Homo sapiens: one gene and its partners. The protein of the gene in region 2 binds, or shares a complex with, the protein of the main gene of each other region. Each region holds a gene or a part of one and is shown on either strand. Other genes may lie near its edges. The genes, in order: CPSF3, CPSF4 and CPSF2.

Region 1 (7,160 bases), on a different chromosome or scaffold from region 2:
GCTGGCACTATAGGTACACGCCACTATGCCTGGCTAATTTTTTGTATTTTTAGTAGAGACGGGGTTTTACCATGTTGGTCAGGCTGGTCTCGAACTCTTGACACCCACCTTGGCCTCCCAAAGTGCTGGGATTACAGGCTTGAGCCACTGTGCCTGGCCTACCTCATATATTGATATATTTTTGGAGACAGGGTCTCACTCTGTTGCGCAGGCTGGAGTCCAGTGATGTGATCATGGCTCACTGCAGCCTCAACCTCCAGGGATCAAGCAATCCTCCTGCCTCAGCCTCCCACGTAGCTGGGACTACAGGCACACGCCACCATGCCCGGCTAATATTTGTATTTTTTGTAGAGACACGGTCTCACATATTGCCCAAGGTGGTCTTGAACTCCTGGGCTCAAGTGATCTGCCCATCTTGGCCTCCCAAAATGCTAGGATTATAGGCGTGAGCCACTGTACCTATCCTAATAAAATATTTCAGAACCAAATGGAACATTTTATTACTTTATATATTTCTTTATTTAAAGAGAGTCTTGCTCTGTTGCCCAGGTTGGAGTGCAGTGGCATAATCTTGGCTCACCGTGGCCTCAATCTCCCAGGCTTATACAATCCTCCCACCTTAGCCACCCAGGTAGCTGGGACTACAGGCATGAGCCACCATGCTTGGCTAGTTTTATTTTATTCTTGTAGAGACAAGGTCTCACTATGTTGTCTAGGCTGGTCTCAAACTTCTGGGCAGTCTTTCCACCTCAGCCTTGCAGAGTGGTACGATTACAGGCATGAGCCACTGTGCTCAGCCCCAAATGGAATATTTTAGAGGGTATTTACAACAACAGCATTAGCTACCAGTCCCTTTCCATTCACTTTTGTAACTTCTATCTTACAAGACAGATTGTTCTTTTTTTTTTGAGACAGTCTTACTCTGCCACCCAGGCTGGAGTGCAGTGTCGTGATCTTGGCTCACTGCAGCCTCTGCCTCGAGGGTTCAAGGGATTCTCATGCCTCAGCCTCCAAGTAGCTGGGATACAGGTGTGAACCACCATGCCTACCTAATTTTTATACTTTTTTTTTTTTTTTTTTTTGAGACCGAGTCTCGCTCCGTCGCCCAGGCTAGAGTCTAGTGGCGTGATCTCGGCTCACTGCAAGCTCCGCCTCCCAGGTTCACGCCATTCTCCTGCCTCGGCCTCCCGAGTAGCTGGGACTACAGGCACCTGCCACCACACCCGTCTAATTTTTTTGTATTTTTAGTAGAGACGGGGTTTCACCGTGTTAGCCAGGATGGTCTCCATCTCCTGACCTCGTGATCTGCTCGCCTTGGCCTCCCAAAATGCTGGGATTACAGGCATGAGCCACCGTGCCCTGCCTAATTTTTATACTTTTAGTAGAGATGGGGTTTCACTATGTTGGCCAGGCTGGTCTCGAACTCCTGGCCTCAAGTGATCCACCCACATCGGCCTCCCAAAGTGCTGGGACTGCAGCCCGGCCAAGATAGATTGTTCTTAGCCTCTCACATGTGGTAGATGGCTTGTGGCTGGGCATAGCCAGCACCAGCACGTGGCAGGGGCTTACTGCTTGCTGGGGAAGGGCCTGGGCCTGGCTGCCTGAACAGAATCCTGGTGCTGCTGCTTATTTAAGCTGTGTAACCTTGACCAAGTGATTTCACACCTCAGTTGTCTCATCTGCAGAACAGCTGTCGGTCATGAAGATTAAGCAAGTCAGTTCATATAAAACACATATACAGTGTCCGGCACATGGTAAATAATCAATGTTAGCTAGTATTCATTACTACCACCAACACTACTAGTATTGCAATTTTATCCTGCAGCTATACTTTTGCTGGAGCTGGTTATCACAAGAAAATGAGCATGAAGTTCAACCCAGGAACTTAAACTGTCAGCAGAAGTAGAACCAGGAGAGTGACAGGATGAAATGGGGCTGAGGATGAGGTGGTGACACCACACAAAAGAGCAATTCGGCTTTTCCTCCCTGGCTTGGAAATCTGGGGGAGTGTTCATGCACACAGACAATAAGAAACACCTGGGAGGAGCCTACTCTGTGACTAAACCCTACACACTGTGATGCTATAGACAGGAGAGTGATTTTTCTTGACCAAATAATCTGCTCATTAAGGGCCAGTGGCAAATACCTGTGAGGCCTATCATGCTAGAAAAAACTCAAAAACGAACAAAAGACTGCATGAAAAGGTGCTCAACATCATTAGTCATTAGAGAAATGAAAATAAAAACCACAACGAGATACCACTTCACATTTGCTGTAAAGTGACACAACCCGAGTGTCCACCCACAGGTGAATGGATAAACAACATGTGGTCTACATATAACGGACCATGACTTCGGCATGAAGTGCTGATACATGCCACAACATGATGAACCTTGAAAACATCATAGGCATTATGATTCCTCTTATATGAAATACCTAGAATAGTCAAATTCATAGAAACAGAAAGTAGATTTGAGATTACCAGGGTTGGCGGAAGGGAATGGGGAGTTACTGTGTAACGGTACAGAGTTTCTGCTTGGAGTGATGAAAAGCTGTGAAAATAGACAGTGGTGATGGTTGTACAACACTGTGAATATAATTAATGCCACTGGTTTGTACACTTAAAAATGGTTAAAACTGCAAATTTTATGTTAGATATTTTACCACAGTAAAACGTATTTAAAAAACAACAAGCAAGGCCAGGTGCAGTGGCTCATGCCTGTAATCCTAGCACTTTGGGAGGCCGAGGCGGGCAGATCACCTGAGGTCAGGAGTTTGAGAACAGCCTGGCCAACATGGTGAAAACCTGTCTCTACTACAAATACAAAAATTAGCTGGGCGTGGTGGCACGTGCCTGTAATCCCAGCTACCCGGAAGGCTGAGGCAGGAGAATTGCTTTAACCCAGGAGGCAGAAGCTGCAGTGAGCTGAGATTGGCGCCACTGCACTCCAGCCTAGGCAACAGAGCAAGACTTCATCCAAACAAACAAACAAACAAACAAACCAAAAAACACCCCAAACAACAAGCAAACAAACAAAACTAACAAAAGGCCATTTCTCCTGCTTTCCAATACATTTGGAAAGGGCACGTCATCTATTTTCTATGGACACATGCTTCATTAGTGTTCTTCTAATTAAAAATACACACTTTTTTCAGCTTACCCCTCCTTTCCAATTCCATCAAAATATCTAACTTATTTTTAATAAGTTACACGATACTTAAAAATATAAGTAAGTCGGCCGGGTGCAGTGGCTCGCGCCTGTAATCCCAGCACTTTGGGAGGCCGAGGCGGGTGTATCATGAAGTCAGGAGTTCAAGACCAGCCCGGCCAAGACGGTGAAACCCCATCTCTACTAAAAATACAAAAATTAGCCGGGTGTGGTGGTGGGCACCTGTAATCCCAGTTACTCAGGAGGCTGAAGCAGAGAGCTGCTTGAACCCGGGAGGCGGAGTTGCAGTCAGCCTGGGTGACAGAGCAAGACTCCGCCTCAAAAAAAAAAAAAATATATATATATATATATAATATATATATTAAGCATTTACTATGTGCCAGGCACCATATTAAGTGCTTTAGATATGTTCTTTCACTTCATCCTTACAATAACCTTATGAGCTATTATTCCTATTTACAAATGAGGTACAGAGAGGTTAAGTAACTTGCCAAGGGTTACATAGTAAGTAAGAGATGGAGCTGGCATTCCAAATGAGCAGTCATACTCCAAGCCTGGCTCTTAAATTATTGGAGAGGCAGCAGAAAATAACAGAAAAACATTAGGATTGGGGTTGGTAGGTCTGAGTCAGTCAGTTCTGGAGAAAGGGGGCAGCTTGCTGAAATCAAAGGGGAGTTGTAAAGGCCAAATCCGAGTGCATGTGAAAGGCTCTGCTCAGGGGGTGTCGCATTAGTAGGTGATGATGCCTGCTTTGTGAACTGCCTGCTGCACAGTTTCCTGGGTATGCACTTTTTTTCCCTTTAATACAATAAATGAAATTCATAGACTAACCACATGAGGCGGTTTCAAAGCACGAATAAATTCACTGGTTTGCTGGTAATCCGTGTGAGCTGAGAAAGAAATGTAATCAACAGACATTTTCAGTGGTAACTTCTGTCCAGACATAGTAGTGATTTCTTCAGGTTCAGACATGATGTGCTGTGGAAAATAAAGAAAAATAACAAAACAAACTACCCAGTTATAATCGTAAAGGTACATTTTCATTTTTTTCATGCAGTCATAAATTCATGTTAAATTTAGGACCTTACGCACAAAATCATTCTAATATAACTGACTCAGTAAATATCAAATACTCATGTTCTCAATCAAGCAAACATTTAATGAGAAAAGTAAACAAATTAACTAAAACTCATCTATCTGGAGTGCTGGCAGTGAGAATCATAACTCTTATGCTTAGAAAGACAAACCTGTATTCCCAACTATTCTTGTGCTCTCCAAAGTCATTTCCTAGATATGTGGATATATTTCTATTCTGAAAATCTTTGTTTTTTCAAATAGGGTCTCACTTTGTCACCCAGGCTGAAATGCAGTGTGCGATCTCAGCTCACTGCAGCCTCGACCTCCTGGGTTCAAGCAAGCCTCCTGCCTCAGTCCCCCAACTAGCTAGGACTACAGGCACGTGCCACCACACCTGGCTAATTTTTGTATTTTTTGTAGAGATGGGATTTCTCCATGTTGCCCAAGCTGGTCCCCAACTCCTGAGCTCAAGTGATCCACCTGCTGTGGCCTCCTGAAGTGCTAGGATTACAGATGTGAGGCACTGTGCCAGGCCTGGAAATTTTTTTTTTCTTTTTTTTTTGGAGATGGAGTCTTGCTCCGTCACCCAGATTGGAGTGCAGTGGCGCCAATCTCGGCTGACTGCAACCTCCGCCTCCAGTTTCAAGCAATTCTCCCTGCCTCAGCCTCCCGAGTAGCTGGGATTACAGGCATACGCCACCACGCCCAGCTAATTTTTTGTATTTTTAGTAGAGACGGGGTTTCGCCATGTTGGCCAGGCTGGTCTCGAACTCCTGACCTCAGGTGATCCGCCCGCCTTGGCCTCCCAAAGTACTGGGATTACAGGTGTGAGCCACTGCACCCAGCCTGGAAATCTATTTTAAATACAACATTGTCACTAAAGAACTTTATAGAATAAGGTAAAGTAATAAAGATTATCAAAGAATCATATCATATTTTTAAAAATAAAATAGAGGATGAGAATGTGATGCCTGGATGCTCAGAAACTGCCTCCCAAGTTCTGCATATATTTTCTACAATTTCTACATCCCTAAGAGCTGAAAATCAATGTTTCATAATAGTAGAAAGTGGTCAACCCAAACACATTCTACAGCTTTTTAAGATCATATGTATTAGTCAACCTCTTCTTCATGAGAGGACGGAGAGTATTCACGTGTTTGTCTCAAACAGGTTCCTGTCCATTCTTCTCTACTTGCAACCAGATGAGCATTTCTCAAACTTTAATGTGTATATCAATCACCTGGGACCTCATTATGCCATTCAGTGTCTGCATAATTCTACATCCTACGCACATCTCTAGCTACCTATTCCCGTCCTCATTTTTAAAAATCAAAACTTGTATTATTTGAAGAACTACTTCAGTGCAAAAACCTGTGAGGACCGTGCCACCTCCGTGATTCTGAATAGGAATAACACAACAGCCTATGACTGTAACTGACCTTGGCAAGTGTCCCTTCTACACAGTATCCCGCTATAATGACACCATTCCTCTTATCAGTACACCAGCTTTCAAATAATTCTCTGGATAAGCCACTTTGCATCATGCCTGGGGAGGCCATTACAACACTGGGACCAATGTCATCAAAATGATCCATGCTCTAAGAGAGAAAACAGAATGGGAAAAGTATGTTAGCTACCAGCAGCTGACAAAGCATTCTTTCTTTTTAAAGAATAACAAAAGGCTAAGAGATTAATCACATCACTGAAAGAGCCTTCACAAGATCTGTAAACATTTTAAGTTCAGTTGCCAAATTCCTAAACAGTTTAGGCTAGGAATGGTAGAAAAACCAAGTAATAAAAAGCGGTAAGTTCACCCCGATCTTCAAAACCTTCTGTTGGTAGCTAGAGGGCCATCAGAACCATCAGGACCATCTTCAGCGCCTAGCAGGCAGGCAGAAAAGTAAAAGGAAGAGTCAAATGGGTCTTGATCTACCCAAGACACAACTCTGAAAAAATATTCCCAAAGACTCACAATAGCTTTGCATGCTCCATGCATGTTTTGAGCTGGCCTGGAAATCAAAAGGTTTAACATTGTTCTAGGGAGAACTTGTCTACAATCCTTAAGCAGTTAACTTAAAATAAATACTTTATGAACAAAGCCTATTTACAACTGGAAGTCCACTTTTAAATTATTTCGGATATCAATTATTTTATTATGATTCAAGCATCGAGTTAAACAGTATTTTTTAAATTAAATAAAATCAGATTTTATTGAATGCTTCCAGAAAAGTATATAAAAATTTTCATATATAGAATTTGCAGCACTAATCAAAAAGATGATTTGGTTTGAGTGAGAAGAGAAACTTAAATACATAATACAAAATATTTTTCTCCTCAGAACTTTTTATGCCTACGGCAAAAGAGATGAGTATTATAAATACTGAGAACACATGGCTACTTGGGGCAAGTGGCAAAATCTGTTGAAGCAGAAAAAGAATGTCAGCTGCTGAAGTTTTGATTTTCTGCAGAAAAACGACACCTGTTGAGAAGCGGTAAGACTCCAGCAAGAGGAATTCAGCCAGAGTCACTGACAAGCACTGCCTACGATTTTTATTTTATTTTGATAGAGACAGGGTCTCACTATCTTGCCCAGGCCGGTCTCAAACTCCTGAGTTCTAGTGATCCTCCTGCCTTAGACTCCCAAAGTGCTAAATTACAGCTGTGAGCCATCACTCACGGCCTCGTACCTCCTACTACTAATGACTGATTTGGTTTTATCCATCCTTGTCTTTCTTCCACAAGCACTCACCTTGAGGTTACTAATGTGTTTGAAAACAAAGGGATTATTGATGTTGATCTGTTTGCGGATTTTGTCATTCATGGCATTTACATATGTCTGGTACACTGCCATACACTTCTTGGCCAAAGATGATGCATAGTATATTGGAATGTCATGTAGTTCTGGGTGATTCT
Region 2 (7,160 bases):
CACATCTCTGCCAGACTCCGTGCCAGCCCCACTGACTCCACCCGGGCTCCCGCTTCTCCACGCAGGCCACTCAGGACAGCTGAGGCCACGCATTCTCTAAGCAGGGCTCAAGGCAAGTTTGTTGCTACCAGAAGACACATCTGAGGCTGTTATTTTGAAGGGCTATTTAGGATGGCTGAGATGTCACCAGGATCATGGCTCCTGGAGAGAAGGAACCAGCTCGGGCCTGAGAGGCAATGCCCACGCTGGAGGGAGAAGTGGGTTTCAGGGAGAAGGTGGACGTGGACAGAAACCAACCACGGACATAATGCAGCCAGCTGCACAACTCGCTGCTTCCGGGTCACCCTCGTTAGCCTCAAATCCGAGTGATTGAAAGAGCTCCAAACACTGAAGCACTCCAAAGTGATGCGCGGGGCCAGGCGTGGTGGCTCACGCCTGTAATCCCAGCACTTTGGGAGGCTGAGGCAGGCAGATCACTCGAGCCCAGGAGTTCAAGACCAGTATGTGAAACATAGCGAGACCCTATGTCTTTAAAAAAAAAAAAAAAAAAAAAGAGATGAGCAGAAAATAGCCACACTGTCCCCTAAAAGCTGGCTGAGGCTGGCAGGTTCTGCCAGAGTTCTCCTCTGAGAATAGAAAGATGGGAAAAGCAGGCAGAGACAGTGTGGGCACTGAGCAGCCAGCGGACCCCTCTGCACCCTGGTTCTCAGCAGAGCCTCCAGGGCTCCAGGCGCCTTACCGAACTTGGAGTAGAAGTAGCACTCGGGCATCTTGGTCATGTCATACTCATGCAGGAACTCACACTGGTCCCCTTTCTTGCATAGGCCACGCAGCCAGTGTTTGCACACAACTGTCTTCTCACCACTGATGTGGCGAAACGGACACATGCCCCCTGCCGGCAAGATAGGGACAGGGTGTCAGCAGAGAGGCCACCCTGAGCCTGGGGGACACGGCCTGAAGAAGCTGAGGTACCTTCACTTCCTAACTCCTGGAGCCACCTGAAGGCATCACGTCCTGGAAAGGGGCAGAGGTCCCCCTCACAGAAGGCAACATGATTTGAGGTACTACACTGACAGACATTTTACATTTTAATAGTTACTCATGGCCGGGCGCAGTGGATCACGCTGGTAATCCCAGCACTTTGGAAGGCCGAGGTGGGCGGATCACAAGGTCAGGAGATCGAGACCATCCTGGCTGGCACGGAGACCATCCTGGCTGTCACGGTGAAATCCTGTCTCTTCTAAAAATACAAAAAATTAGCCGCGCATGGTGGCTGGCGCCTATAGTCCCAGCTACTCGGGAGGCTGAGGCAGGACAACAGCGTGAACCCGGGAGGCGGAGCTTGCAGTGAGCAGAGATCGCGCCACTGCACACCAGCCTGGGCAACAGAGCAAGACACCTTTTCAAAAAAAAAAAAAAAAAAGTTACTCATGATCTCACAGATATTACTGTAAGATGGAGGAATTAAAAGGGGGGAGGTGCTGGGAGGCTGAGGTGGGTAGATCACGAGGTCAGGAGTTCGAGACCAGCCTGGCTGACATGGTGAAACCCCATCTCTACTAAAAGTACAAAAAAAATTAGCCCGGCTTGCGGGTGGGTGCCTGTAATCCCAGCTACTTGGGAGGCTGAGGCTGGAGAATCGCTTGAACCCAGGAGGCGGAGGTTGCAGTGACCGGAGATCACGCCATTGCACTCCAGCCTGGATGACAAGAACAAAACTCTGTCTCAAAAAAAAAAAAAAGAAAAAAAAAAAGAAAGGAACTTGGCCGGGTGTAGGAGCTCAAATCTATGATCCTAGCACTTTGGAAGGCCAAGACAGGAGAATCACTTGAGCCAAGAAGTTCGAGATCAGCCTGAGATCTTGTCTTCACTACATAAATAAATAAGTAAGTAAGTAAGTAAGCCAGCCAAGCAAGCTTGGGGACCAGGCACAGTGGCTCACACCTGCAATCGCAGTAGTTTGGGAGGCCAAGGCAGGTGCATCACCTGAGGTCAGGAGTTCGAGACCAGCCTGGCCAACATAATGAAACCCTGTCTCTACTAAAAATACAAAAAATTAGCTGGGCGTGGTGGTGTGCACCTGTAATCCCAGCTACTCAGGAGGCTGAGGCAGGAGAATTGCTTGAACCCAGGAGGCAGAAGTTGCAGTGAACCAAGATGACACCACTGCACTCCAGCCTGGGCAACAAGAGCAAAACTCCGTTAAAAAAAAAAAAAAAAAAAAAAAAAAAAAAAAAAAAAGCTGGGTATGGTGGTGTACACCTGTAGTCCTGGCTACTGAGGAGGCTGAGGTGGGAGGATCACTTGGGCCCAGGAGGTCAAGCTTGCAGTCAGCTATGACTGTGCCACTGCACTCCAGCCTGGGTGACAGAGTAAGATGCTGCCTCTTTTTTAAAAAAAAAAAAAAAGGAAAGACCAATTTCAGAATTGAGGAAATGTGATGTATACACATGGAGGGACGTGTCCCTTCTGGGACAGGACCTGATGGGACAGAGCCAGCCTCTGGGGATGTGTGAGACTTCTAACGGGTGGCCTGGCAAGACCACCATGGAGGTCCGACCAGAATGAGGCCGCTGTACACTTCTGCTGTCCAATATGGCAGCTGCTAGCCCCATGTGACTACTGAGCACTTGAAATATGACTAGTGTGTCTGAGAATTTTGTTTTAAATGTGATTTGATTTTACTTAAATTTGAACTGCCACATGTGACTAGTGGCTACTGTATTAGTCAACAGAGAGACAGAATGCCCTGTGTTAGGGATGGCTGTGCTAACAGAAGGTGGCTGGTCAGAAGGGCAGAATTACTGAGCAAAGACATGGGAATGAGACCAGAAACTCAGTGGAGGTAATGACGTTCTGACTGGACAGTGTGAAGGTGGCCTGGCTGATCTGCCAGAAAGTCTCCTACCTCAGTGGTAAATGACTACGTTATAGAAGCAAAACTCACCAAAACCATTCATTAAAACCAGCCCTTTGCTCTGATTCTCTGCTCTCTTTTTCAAGCTTCTGATTAATATTTAAGTCTCCTAAATAAATTTTCCTACAGGGAGAAAAATGCCCAGACCATGGAAAGTTTAGGTTGTACCTAGTGATACTTCTTTCTTTCTTTTTTTTTTGTTTTGTTTTGTTAAGACAGAGTCTCACTCTGTTACCTAGGCTGGAGTGCAGTGGTGCGATCTTGGCTCACTACAACCTCTGCCTAACAGGTTCAAGTGATTCTCCTGCCTCAGCCTCCCCAGTAGCTGGGATTACAGACGGGCGTCACCATGCCCAGCTAATTTTTGAATTTTTAGTAGAGACGATGTTTCACCATGTTGGCCAGGCTGGTCTCAAACTCCTGACCTCAGGTGATCCATCCACCTCGGCCTCCCAAAGTGCTGGGATTACAGGCGTAAGCCACCACGCCTGACCCCTAGTGATACTTCTGATGGATTAGCCCGGCCCACATACAATTATTAAAAGAGCACAGCCAGAGGGGTAACAAGATGGCGACCAAGACAGTGGAGCTCCATAAGCTGAAGCTTGCTGAACTAAAGTAAGAATGAATGTCTTGCTCGTGGTTTGGAGACGAGCAAATAAAGCAAGATTTTTTTTTTTTTTGAGATAGAGTCTTGCTCTGTTGCCAGGCTGGAGTGCAATGGCACGATCTCGGCTCACTGCAACCTCTGACTCCCTGGTTCAAGGGATTCTCGCACCTCAGTAGTTTTGTGTAGTCTGTGTTGAGGGCTGGTTATCGAGAACAAGACCCCGCAAGATGGGTTATCATGGGGTGTTTCGATGGGAGGCCACAGAAAACCATGAGCCAGTGGAAACTATGGAATGAGAAAGACCTGGGTTCAGACACTGGGCTCTGCCGCTTATTAACTCTGTGACATTGAGAAAGTTCCTGAGTGTCTCAATGCTGGGGGCTTCTCTCCATGTCACAGGTCAGCTTGTGGCCACGGGGAATGCGAAGTGATAAGGCAGCCTTAGAGCCAGGTTCAGTCCTGCGTTTAGGTTTCAGGTGGAACACCCCATCAGGGTCCTAGCCTGTCCAAACCAGTTTTATCTACAGAGATCGTTAGTCTGTAGAAAGCAATGTAAGCCAGAGACCTGGCGGCCTCCAAGTCTGCCGGGGAGAAGGAGGTGGGAGGGCGCCTCCGGAGGCACATCAGGGAGCCCGGAGTTTCTTACCTTTGCCGCAGGCAGCTTTCAAAAAGAATTCACAGACAGCAGCGCCCGACTCTGTAGAAAGGAGAGAAAAGGAGAGGAATCAAAGAGGTGCAATTTGCTATTGACAATGTCTGAAGACAGTGGGAGGGAACCCTTCTGACCTCTGACCCACCAAGGGTTCAGGGTACAGGAAATAAAGTAGCAAAAATTTGCAAAGCCCAACCAAGCAAGGAAGAAGCTGCTTAAGTTAGTCACGCCCTACAAAATGAGACACATACATTGAGAACAGTCATTACCCAGTGCTTTGAGAGCCTCCTGTATATAAGATCCTTTCAAGGAGTTAAGAGTGGGTGGGGAAAGGAAGGCTGGAGTACGAGATCACAGAAATAATTTTTTTTTTTTTGAGATGGGGTTTCGCTCTAGTTGCCTGGGCTGGAGTGCAATGACGCGATCTTGGCTCACTGCAATCTCTGCCTCCCAGGTTCAAGCAATTCTCTTGCCTCAGCCTCCCAAGTAGCTGGGATTACAGGTGCCTGCCACCACGCTTGGCTAATTTTTGTATTTTTAGTAGAGACGGGGTTTCACCATGTTGGCCAGGCTGGTCTCGAACTCTTGACTTCAGGTGATCCACCCACCTCGGCCTCCCAAAGTGCTGGGATTACAGGCGTTGAGCCAAAGTGCCTGACACACAGGAATAAATTAACGGCCCCTAGCTCACACCTTCCTCCAGGAGGGCGAATTCACAGATACCTTAACATGAGGCAGAGGGAAGGAATGATCTCACAGACGTACAGACAATCAGGGCCTCTGAGGAGGGTCAGGCTTCAAGGAAGAGGCAGTGCCTCTGAGATGCTAGTCCAGGGGGAAGCACATTAAGTGCAGAAACAGAGGACTGCTTTTAATATGCAACATCCGTACACAATTTTTTTTTTCTATTTTTTTGAGACAGAGTCTCGCTCTGTCGCCCAGGCTAGAGTGTGGTGGTGCGATCTTGGCTCACCGTAACCTCTGCCTCCTTGGTTCAAGAGATTCTCCTGCCTCAGCTTCCTGAGTAGCTGGAATTATAGGTGTACCATCATGCCTGCCCAATTTTTTTGTATTTTTAGTAGAGATAGGGTTTTGCCATGTTGGCCAGGCTGGTCCCAAACTACTGGCTTCAAGTGATCCACCTACCTTGGCCTCCCAAAGTGCTGGGATTATAGACGTGAGCCACCACACCTGGCCCACATACAATTATTACAGGCTGGTCTCGAACTCCTGACCTCGTGATCCGCCTGCCTTGGCTTCCCAAAGTGCTAGGATTGAGCCACCGCACCCCACCCCACATACAATTATTAAAAGAGCACACCCGGAGGGGTAACAAGATGGTAACTGAGATGGTGGAGCTCCATAAGCTGAAGCTTGCTAAACTAAAGCAAGAATGTCTTCTTGTGGTTTGGAGACCAAGGGAATAAAGCAAGATCTTATCCACAGACTCCAGGCATATCTTGAAGAACATGCTGAAGAGGAGGCAAATGAAGATGTACTAGGAGATGAAACAGAAGAAGAAAAAAACCCCTTGTCAAATAGGAAGAACCCCCTGAAAAAAACTGTTGATGTGGCAGCAGAGAAGAAAGTGGTGAAAATTACATCTGAAATACCACAGGCTGAGAGAATGCAGAAGAGGGCCGAACAATTCAGTGTACCTGTGAGCTTGGAGAGTAAGAAAGCTGCTCAGGCAGCTAGGTTTGGGATTTCTTCAGTTCCAACAAAAGTCTGTCATCTGAACACACCTATGGTTAACTTGGATAAGCCGAAGGAAAGAGCTCAAAGATTTGGTTTGAATGTCTCTTCAATTTCCAGAAAGTCTGAAGATGATAAGAAACTGAAAAAGAGGAAGGAGCGATTTGGGATTGTCACAAGTTCAGCTGGAACTGGAACCACAGAGGATACAGAGGCAAAGAAGAGGAAAAGAGCAGAGCGCTTTGGCATTGCCTGATGAAAGGTTCTTGATACTTTCTGTTCTCCAGTGTTTTCCACTTCTCTCATTCTTCTTGGTCACATATATACTAAATGCAGTCTTGCCTTGCAATGAGGGAGCAGGTACCCCAGGTAAAACTGTGAACTGCCGCGGCAGTTTGACTTATTGCTGTTTCAGCTTTAAGGTTGTTGTGTTTTTGTTTTTGATTATATTGCTTGTTTTTTGTTTTTTTTTTTTTTTTTTTTGAGACGGAGTCTCGCTGTTGCCCAGGCTGGAGTGCAGTGGTGTGATCTCGGCTCACTGCAGGCTCTGCCCCACCGGGGTTCACACCATTCTCCTGCCTCAGCCTCCCGAGTAGCTGGGACTACAGGCACCCGCCACCTTGCCCAGCTAATTTTTTGTATTTTTAGTAGAGACGGGGTTTCACCGTGTTAGCCAGGATGGTCTCGATCTCCTGACCTCGTGATCCGCCCGCCTCGGCCTCCCAAAGTGCTGGGATTACAGGTGTGAGCCACAACGCCCGGCCGATTATGTTGCTTGTTAATAAAAAAGAAAAGAAAAGAAAAAAAAAGCACAGCCTTTCATTCCCACAGTCGGAGTGTGCTGGAATTCAGTGGGCTCCAGGGACCAGCTGTTCTGATGAGTCCAGGAATTCACCAGCCCCAGCTGCCAGACTAAACTGACCTTGGCATCAGAAACAGTTTCCTCTACAAGTAACCATTTTAGAATTGCTGAAAAACCAATGACAGCATCTCTGAAGCCCACTTAACATGCCTCCCCTTGCTAAATCACAAAAGATTCCTTGGCTTCTTGGAAGCAAGCAGATTTTGCTAGGACACAGCTGAGGTTATAGAACTTATGGCTGTCACAGGGAGGTCACTCCATTTGCATCTCAAAAAGTCTGAAAGTGGCCAGGTGCGGTGACTCACGTCTGTAATCCTAGCACTTTGGGAGGCTGAGGCGGGTGGATCACTTGACATCAGGAGTTCAAGACCAGCCTGGCCAATATGGTGAAACCCCATCTCTACTAAAAATGCAAAAATTAGTC
Region 3 (7,347 bases), on a different chromosome or scaffold from region 2:
GAAGTAAGTTCACCATGATAGCTAAAAGAAAAAAAAATTATCAGAAATACAACTGCTTTGTTTTTTTTTTGAAATAGCTTTTAAATTGCATCTGGGCCAGGTGCGGTGGTTCATGCCTGTAATCCTAGCACTTTGGGATGCTGAGGTGGGCAGATCACTTGAGATTAGGAGTTCGAGACCAGCCTGGCCAACATGGCAAAACCCCATTTCTACTAAAAGCACAAAAATTAGCCGGGTGTGGTGGTGCGCGTCTGTTATCCCAGCTACTGGAGAGGCTGAGGCAGGAGAATTGCTTGAACCCAGGAGGCGGAGGTTGCAGTGAGCCAAGATCGTGCCACTGTACTTCAGCCTGGGCGACAGAGCAAGACTCCATCTCAATAAAATAAATAAATTGCATCTGAAACAAGAAGATGATAGACATAGATGTAATAGATGTTAAAAGCCTAATACGCCTCTTTGTTTGCCTGGCATCAGAATGTAGTATAATACTTTAAAATCTAATTGATGAAGATTACATACGGGACAATGATTAATATAAAATTACACCACACTGGGTCTATTTATTACATTTTACTACTAGCTTCAATAGTGATGTGATACGATACAGAGCAGAGAAACAGAGATGGTATGTAAAAAAATTCTACCTGCAACAGCTGATTGTTTGCACCCTCCTCATGTTGTTTTGGAACTTTTTTTTGTAAAAGAGACAAGGTCTTGCTATGTTGCCCAGGCTGGAGGGCAGTGGCTATTCACAGGCACTACAGCTCTCAACTCCCGGGCTCAAGCATTCCTCCTGCCTCAGCCTCCCAAGTAGCTGGGACTACAGGCATACACCACTGCACCTGGCTCTCATTTAGGACTTTTACTTGTGTAAAACATATTTAGAACCTCTCACAATGCAAAAACAAATTTAATACAATTTTGCCAGAAATGGAATTCTTTAGGTAAAGCTGTAATTACTGAAAACTAAATTTAGAAAGGAAATTAAAAGATATGAGAGAAAAAAGAAAACTATATTCAATAATGTCACTGTAGATATGAATATAAATTACTCTAAAAAAGGTAAAGGGGCCGGGTGTAGTGGCTCACGCCTGTAATCCCAGCACTTTGGGAGGCTGAGGCGGGTGGACGACAACAAGGTCAGGAGTTCGAGACCAGCCTGGCCAACATGGTGAAACTCCATCTCTACTAAAAATACAAAAATTAGGTGGGCGTAGTGGCACATGCCTGTAGTCCCAGTTACTCAGGAGGCTGAGGCAGGAGAATTGCTTGAACTCGGGAGGCAGAGGTTGCAGTGAGCTGAGATGACGCCACTACACTCCAGCCTGGGGGATACAGCGAGTCTCTGTCTCAGAAAAAAAAGAAAGAAAAAAAAAGGCAAAGGGAGAAGAAAATTTACTTTTATAGAGTGACTACTAGGTGGCTCATGCCTGTAACCACAGCACTTTGGGAGACTAAGGCGGATGGATCGCTTGAGCCTAGGAGCTTGAGACTAGCCTGGTTAACATGGCAAAACCCTGTCTCTACAAAAAATCAAAAAATTAGCTGGGTGTGGTAGTATATGCCTGTAGTCCCAGCTACTTCGGAGGCTGAGGTGGGAGGATTGCTTGAGCCCAAGAGACGGAGGTTGCAATGACCTGAGATCACACCACTGTACTCTAGCCTGGACGACAGAGCGTGATGCTGTCTCAAAAAAAAAAAAAAGACTACTAGGTTACTAGGTACCAGAGCCATCATCTATTTCTATACGTAATGTGAAATAACTATTATTTACATTTTACAGATAAGAAAACAGCTTAATCCAAATAGCTATTAAGTACAGAGCTGGAGTTCAAATTCAGCTTCACTCTACAGCTCTGGCTGCTATTATAGCCCATGCCTAAGAAACCCCTTCCTGAATTGATGTTTATGGTACTTAAAAGCTTTTAAATGCTGAGTTTCCAGAAGGTAGATGAGGAGGAATAGAACTATAGGTTTTTCCTTATCCGAAATGCTTGGGACCCGAAGTGTTTTCGATTTTTTGATTTTGAAATATTTGCATGCACATAATGAGCTATCTTGGGGATAGGACCGAATTAAAACATAAAATTCATTTGTGTTTTATATATACCTTATACACATAGCCTGAAGGTAATCTTATATGAAACTTTTTTTTTTTTTTAAATAGTCTCGCTCTGTCACCTAGGATGGAGTGCAGTGGAGTTATAATAGTCCACTGCAGTCTTGAACTCCTGAGCTCAAGTGATCTTCCCACCTCAATCTTCTGAGAAGCTGGAGCTACGGGTGCTAATTTAAAAAAATTCTTTAAACATTTTTTTTTGTAGAGACAAGATCTTGCTATGTTGCCCAGGCTGGTCTCAAACTTGTGGCCCCAAGTTTCACATATGGGGGCATTTTGGATTTCCAACATTCTGATCAGGGATACTGAACCTGTAATAGACATCATGTGGAAAATAAATTGCACAATTCAATAAAAACATAGTTGGATTGCCAATTTTCTGTAAAAATTCGTGCATACAGATGAATTCAAAATACACCTGTGTGCGTTTGGACTAAACTAATAAATCATGTACAATGACTAAGAAGACATATGACAACATCCTAGAAAGACAATACATTATTGCCAACAAAAGTGCTTAGCACTAAGCTGTGCTAGGACTATGTAGACTGAATTTCTGCCTCTCCTCTTACACTGGCATGCTTATACAATTCATACTTTTTTCTTTCCTTTTTTTTTTTTTATTTTGAGACGAAGTTTCGCTCTTGTTGCCTAGGCCGGAGTGCAATGGCGCAATCTTGGCTCACAGCAACCTCTGCCTCTCGGATTCAAGGGATTCTCCTACCTCAGCCTCCCAAGTAGCTGGGATTACAGGTATGCGCCACCATGCCCAGCTAATTTTGTATTTTTGGTAGAGACGAGGTTTCTCCATGTTGGTCAGGCTGGTCTTGAATTCCCAACCTCAGGTGGTCCGCCCGCCTAGGCCTCCCAAAGTGCTGGGATTACAGGCGTGAGCCACCGCGCCCGGCCGTTCAAGTGATTTTCTTGCCTCAGCCTTCCGAGTAGCTGGGACTATAGGCAGGTGCCACCACGCCCGGCTAATTTTTGTATTTTTAAGTAGAGATGGGGTTTCACTGTTGGCCGGGCTGGTCTCAAACTCCTGACCTCTTGATCCGGCCACCTCGGCCTTCCAAAGTGTTGGGATTACAGGCGTGAGCCACTAAGCCTGGCCATACTTTTGTCTTTTAAAAGGCAAGGTGGGCCAGGTGCAGTGGCTCACGCCTGTAATCCCAGCACTTTGGGATGCTGAGGCGGGTGGATCACGAGATCAGGAGTTCGAGACCAGCCTGGCCAACATAGTGAAACCCTCGTCTCTACTAAATATACAAAAAATTAGCCGGGTGTGGTGGCGGGCGCCTGTAATCCCAGCTACTTGGGCTGCTGAGACGGGAGAATCGCTTGAACCCGGGAGGCGGAGGTTGGAGTGAGCCGAGATTGCACCATTGCACTCCAGCCTGGGTGACAAGAGTGAATCTCTGTCTCAAAAATAAAAAAGCAAAGTAAAAGGGTAAGCACATCATTTAGGCGCAACGGTGTCGGCTCAAGAGGATTTGCGATTTGGAAGAGAGCGAGGTTAGCGAGAAGACAGAAGGCTGGAACTTGGACGAATGTAAGCTGCTCGCGGAGGGGAGGCAGCGTCTTCCCTGCTTCAGGCCAGGCGTGGGATCCGGGCCGGTCTTCTCTCCAGTCCGGTTAGCGGGCGGTCACTGGGTCACATCTCTACGGACGTTTTCCTGTTATGACAGCCTCAGAAAACCCTTTCCAAAAGCTCCGGCCCGGAAATCCCATCCTCCACCCGAAGAAAACCCCATTTTCCTTTCCCGTCACCTTCGTTCGGAAGCCCCGGGGAAGCCCAGACCACCCCTCCACACATGCACAGCACCGAGGGCTTGCCTAGAACCCTCCCCGCCACCGTCGCCGTGATCCTCGTCGCGGCGGCCCCCCGGGCTCCCCAAACCCACCTGCAGCCTCAGCGCCTACAGCGACCCCGAGACCAAGGGCAACAGGGAACTCAACCCGCGCCAGTGGAAGCTGCGACCTCGGGACCTGCCATTCGCCGCGCCCGCACGGAGCAGAGGGGTGACGCCAGCAAATCATACTACTTTTTCCTCCTCAGGGTTGACTCCTCTCATTTTTTTTTTTTTTAGCTTCCAAACATTACCAATAATTTCTGAATAAAATTTCGCTCCAGACAGACGAGGCGTGCAGGCGTGACCGCCGTCGCCTTCCGACAGCACCGTGCCCACCCCCCGGAGATGGTCTCGCCCTGGTTCCTCCTCGTCTCCGCCGCTAGTCTCCAGCTCCAAAATGGCGGCTGCCACTGTGGGGCTTCTGCCGGCCGGTAGTCCCTGGCGCTGCTGACCCAGCATCGGCTTTTCTACGTCTTGAACCTGGATTCGCCTAGGGGTTGGGAAGGGCTGTGGACGGCGTTGGGGGAGGCCTGACGAGGCAAGTGAGGGCGGGAGAAAGGAGCGAGCCTCGGGCTGGGGAAGGCGGCGTCATTGGCCCTCCGGGAGCACGGGGCCCCGACTCCGACCCGGTCTCCCCCGAGGACTCGCCCCCGCCGCTTCGGCTGCGACTGTCCCGGTCGTTCCCGGCAGAAGTGGTCAGCGAGGGAAAGAGAAGTGACTTCTCCATGGGTTTCAAGCTCCCAGCTGTTTTGCGGCAGCCCGTACGGTTCCCTCCCGGGATCTTCTTCCCTCCTTTCTGCTTCCCTCTGCTTCCCCTTTCATCTCTTGGCGCTGGAAGAGTTAAACCGACGCCAGCTTTAGCTCCTTGGCTTCGTGGCTACGGCGTTCTTAGCCTCCCCTGCTCGGGCTCTTCCCGTCGTTTTGGGTTGAGAGACCACGAGGTTGCTAAGCTCTGGACACCGCTTAGGCGTCCTTTTAGTTCTTCGACTCCAGAGACCTTTCGGTTGTTTGTACCACACTGTACTAAAAGGGTCTTGGGCCTTCGCGCCCTCCCGCCATCGCCCTCCAGCGCTTCCACTATCACTGCGAAGTTCTAATTCTTTTTTGACTTCGTACTATTTTACGTGCTCTTTAGAAAAGAAGAGGTCAGATTGAACCCCGGCAAGTCTGGCTTCCTGTGACCAGGCGAACCTGAGCTATCATTTATACCCATCCCCTAATTTTTAATTTTACAACCCCTTTAACCCCTTTCTTTTTTCTTTCTTTTTTTTTTTTTTTAATAAAGACGGGGTTTCACTATGTTGCCCAGGCCGGTGTCGAACTCCTGGGCTCAAGAGATCCTCCCATTTTGGCCTGTGCTGGGATTCCAGGCGTGAGCCACCATGCCCGGCCTTGCAACCCCAGTATGAAACTGGGGCTCTCCCTCAACTGACCGAGAAGAGCCTTCCCCACTCAGTGAGCTCCAGGGCTAACCCAAACTCCTCTGTTTTCCCTTGGATTTTGCTTAGTTCACCTTAGTTGTCATCAACATGCACGGTAATTATTTTTTATTTTTGAGAAGGAATCTCGCTCTGTCGCCCAGGCTGGAGTGCAGTGGCACGATTCTCGGCTCACTGCAACCTCTGCCTCCCGGGTTCAAGTGATTCTCCTGCCTCAGACTCCCGAGTAGCTGGGACTACAGGCGCGCACCACCACGCCCACCTATTTTTGTAGCTTTAGTAGAGACAGGGTTTCACCTTGTTGGCCAGGATTATCCGCCTGCCTCGGCCTCCCAAAGTTCTGGGATTACAGGCGTGAGCCACCGCGCCTGGCCGATTTATTATTTGAGACCGGGTCTCGCTCTGTCCACCCAGGCTGGAGTGCAGTGGTGCCATCTCAGCTCACTGCAACTTCCGCCTCCTGGGCTCAAGTAATCCTCCCACCTCAGCCTCCCAAGTAGCTGGGGTCACCAGCGCAGCCACCGCGCCCGGCTACTTTTTTGTGTTTTTAGTAGAGAAGGGGTTTTGTCATATTGCCCAGGCTGGTCTGGAACTCCTGAGCTCAAGTGATCTGCCCTCCTCGGCCTCCCAAAGTGTTGAGATTAAAGGCGCAAGCCACTGCGCCCGGCAACATGCACGATTATTATTAAGAGGGCAAGTAACTGTGAGATATTTGCGATGAAGTAGTATCTGTCAAAACCAGTGCTCTGAAGGAATTTATGATATGATGAGGCTTCATTCCTTCTTGCAGTACCCATTTATGCTGCCTTGACCACTGAAGTTGGTATTGGATATACAAAGATGATCACTTTTACTCCTCTATACATTGAACATCCATTCAACAAATACTTTATGTGCCTCCTTTATAACAAAATAACTAACTTTGCCTAGGGCAACAAAAAGGCTTTATAAAGGAGTAAATATGTGAGCTGGGTCATATAGCATCAAAAGGAATTTGCTGAGCTCAAAAGGAGAAGGTAATTTCGGGATTCAGTACAGGAATACAGAGCTTTGAGAAGCTTTAGCATACTTAGGGAGAGTGGGATAATCAACCTGCCTGAGCATTTAGTGCACGAGTGATTGGTGAAGCAAGAGGTAGGTTAAGATCAGCTTGTGAAGGATCTTGGTTTCCAATAGGGAGTTTAGATTTTTTTCAGTAGTTACCAGGAATCCAGTGGATATTTTGTGCAAGGAGTGAGCAGGAGGATATTTGTTTTTTTAGGATGGTCTCTGACAGCTATATGGAGGATCAACTGGGAACAGAAAAACTAGATGAAAGGAAATGGGCAATCATTCAGGTAAGGCAATGAGGGCCTCCATGGAGGCAGGACATAAAGGAGGTCAGAGAGACACTAAGTAAATGTCAAATGGGATTCACCTGCTGACTGCTAAGTTAATGGTAAGAAGGTGACTTGAGTTTTTAGTCTGGGAGAGTAAATGGTTGGCAATACTATTAAAACTTAGTCTGAGACATGTACATAAACATAGGATGGTGCCAACCTGCACTTTAGGGGTGACAACATGATGCTCTATAGTGTAAAGCATTGGTTTTTATGGTCTGGAGTCTAGATCTGCACTGTTATGGTAGTCACTAGCCACATGTAGCTATTGAGCACTTCAGATGTCGTTAGTCTATTTGAAATGTGCTGTAAATATAAAATACACAGTGGATTTTGAAGATTTAATATGAAAATGTAAAATATTCAACATGATTACATGTTGAAATAATATTTTGGTTCTATTGGGTTAAATAAAATTCATTAAAATTCACCCGTTTCTTTTTCACTTTTCCATGTGGCCATGAAGAAATTAAAAAGTACATTTGTGGCACGCATTATATGTCTGTTGACAGAGCTGTTCTAGTCTAGACTAGATGTGGGAATTTGTAAGGAGGTGGAAC

What was found.
Region 1: CPSF4 (region 2) and CPSF3 share a complex: the UniProt entries of both Homo sapiens proteins name them as parts of the cleavage and polyadenylation specificity factor (CPSF) complex.
Region 3: CPSF4 (region 2) and CPSF2 share a complex: the UniProt entries of both Homo sapiens proteins name them as parts of the cleavage and polyadenylation specificity factor (CPSF) complex.

The regions. Positions count from the first base shown.
Region 1 is NC_000002.12:9,440,503-9,447,662, reverse strand, and holds part of CPSF3 (cleavage and polyadenylation specificity factor subunit 3), read right to left. Parts: coding exon 6,997-7,160; intron 5,846-6,996; coding exon 5,687-5,845; intron 4,149-5,686; coding exon 4,002-4,148; intron 1-4,001. UniProt on the Homo sapiens protein: Component of the cleavage and polyadenylation specificity factor (CPSF) complex that plays a key role in pre-mRNA 3'-end formation, recognizing the AAUAAA signal sequence and interacting with poly(A) polymerase and other factors to bring about cleavage and poly(A) addition.
Region 2 is NC_000007.14:99,441,853-99,449,012, reverse strand, and holds part of CPSF4 (cleavage and polyadenylation specificity factor subunit 4), read right to left. Parts: intron 6,679-7,160; exon of another isoform or gene 6,639-6,678; intron 6,317-6,638; exon of another isoform or gene 5,504-6,316; intron 4,225-5,503; coding exon 4,174-4,224; intron 893-4,173; coding exon 740-892; intron 1-739. UniProt on the Homo sapiens protein: Component of the cleavage and polyadenylation specificity factor (CPSF) complex that play a key role in pre-mRNA 3'-end formation, recognizing the AAUAAA signal sequence and interacting with poly(A) polymerase and other factors to bring about cleavage and poly(A) addition.
Region 3 is NC_000014.9:92,117,622-92,124,968, forward strand, and holds the start of CPSF2 (cleavage and polyadenylation specificity factor subunit 2), read left to right. Parts: upstream 1-4,347; 5' UTR 4,348-4,507; exon of another isoform or gene 4,508-4,730; intron 4,731-7,347. Other genes in the region: NDUFB1 (NADH dehydrogenase [ubiquinone] 1 beta subcomplex subunit 1), read right to left, coding at 1-16. UniProt on the Homo sapiens protein: Component of the cleavage and polyadenylation specificity factor (CPSF) complex that play a key role in pre-mRNA 3'-end formation, recognizing the AAUAAA signal sequence and interacting with poly(A) polymerase and other factors to bring about cleavage and poly(A) addition.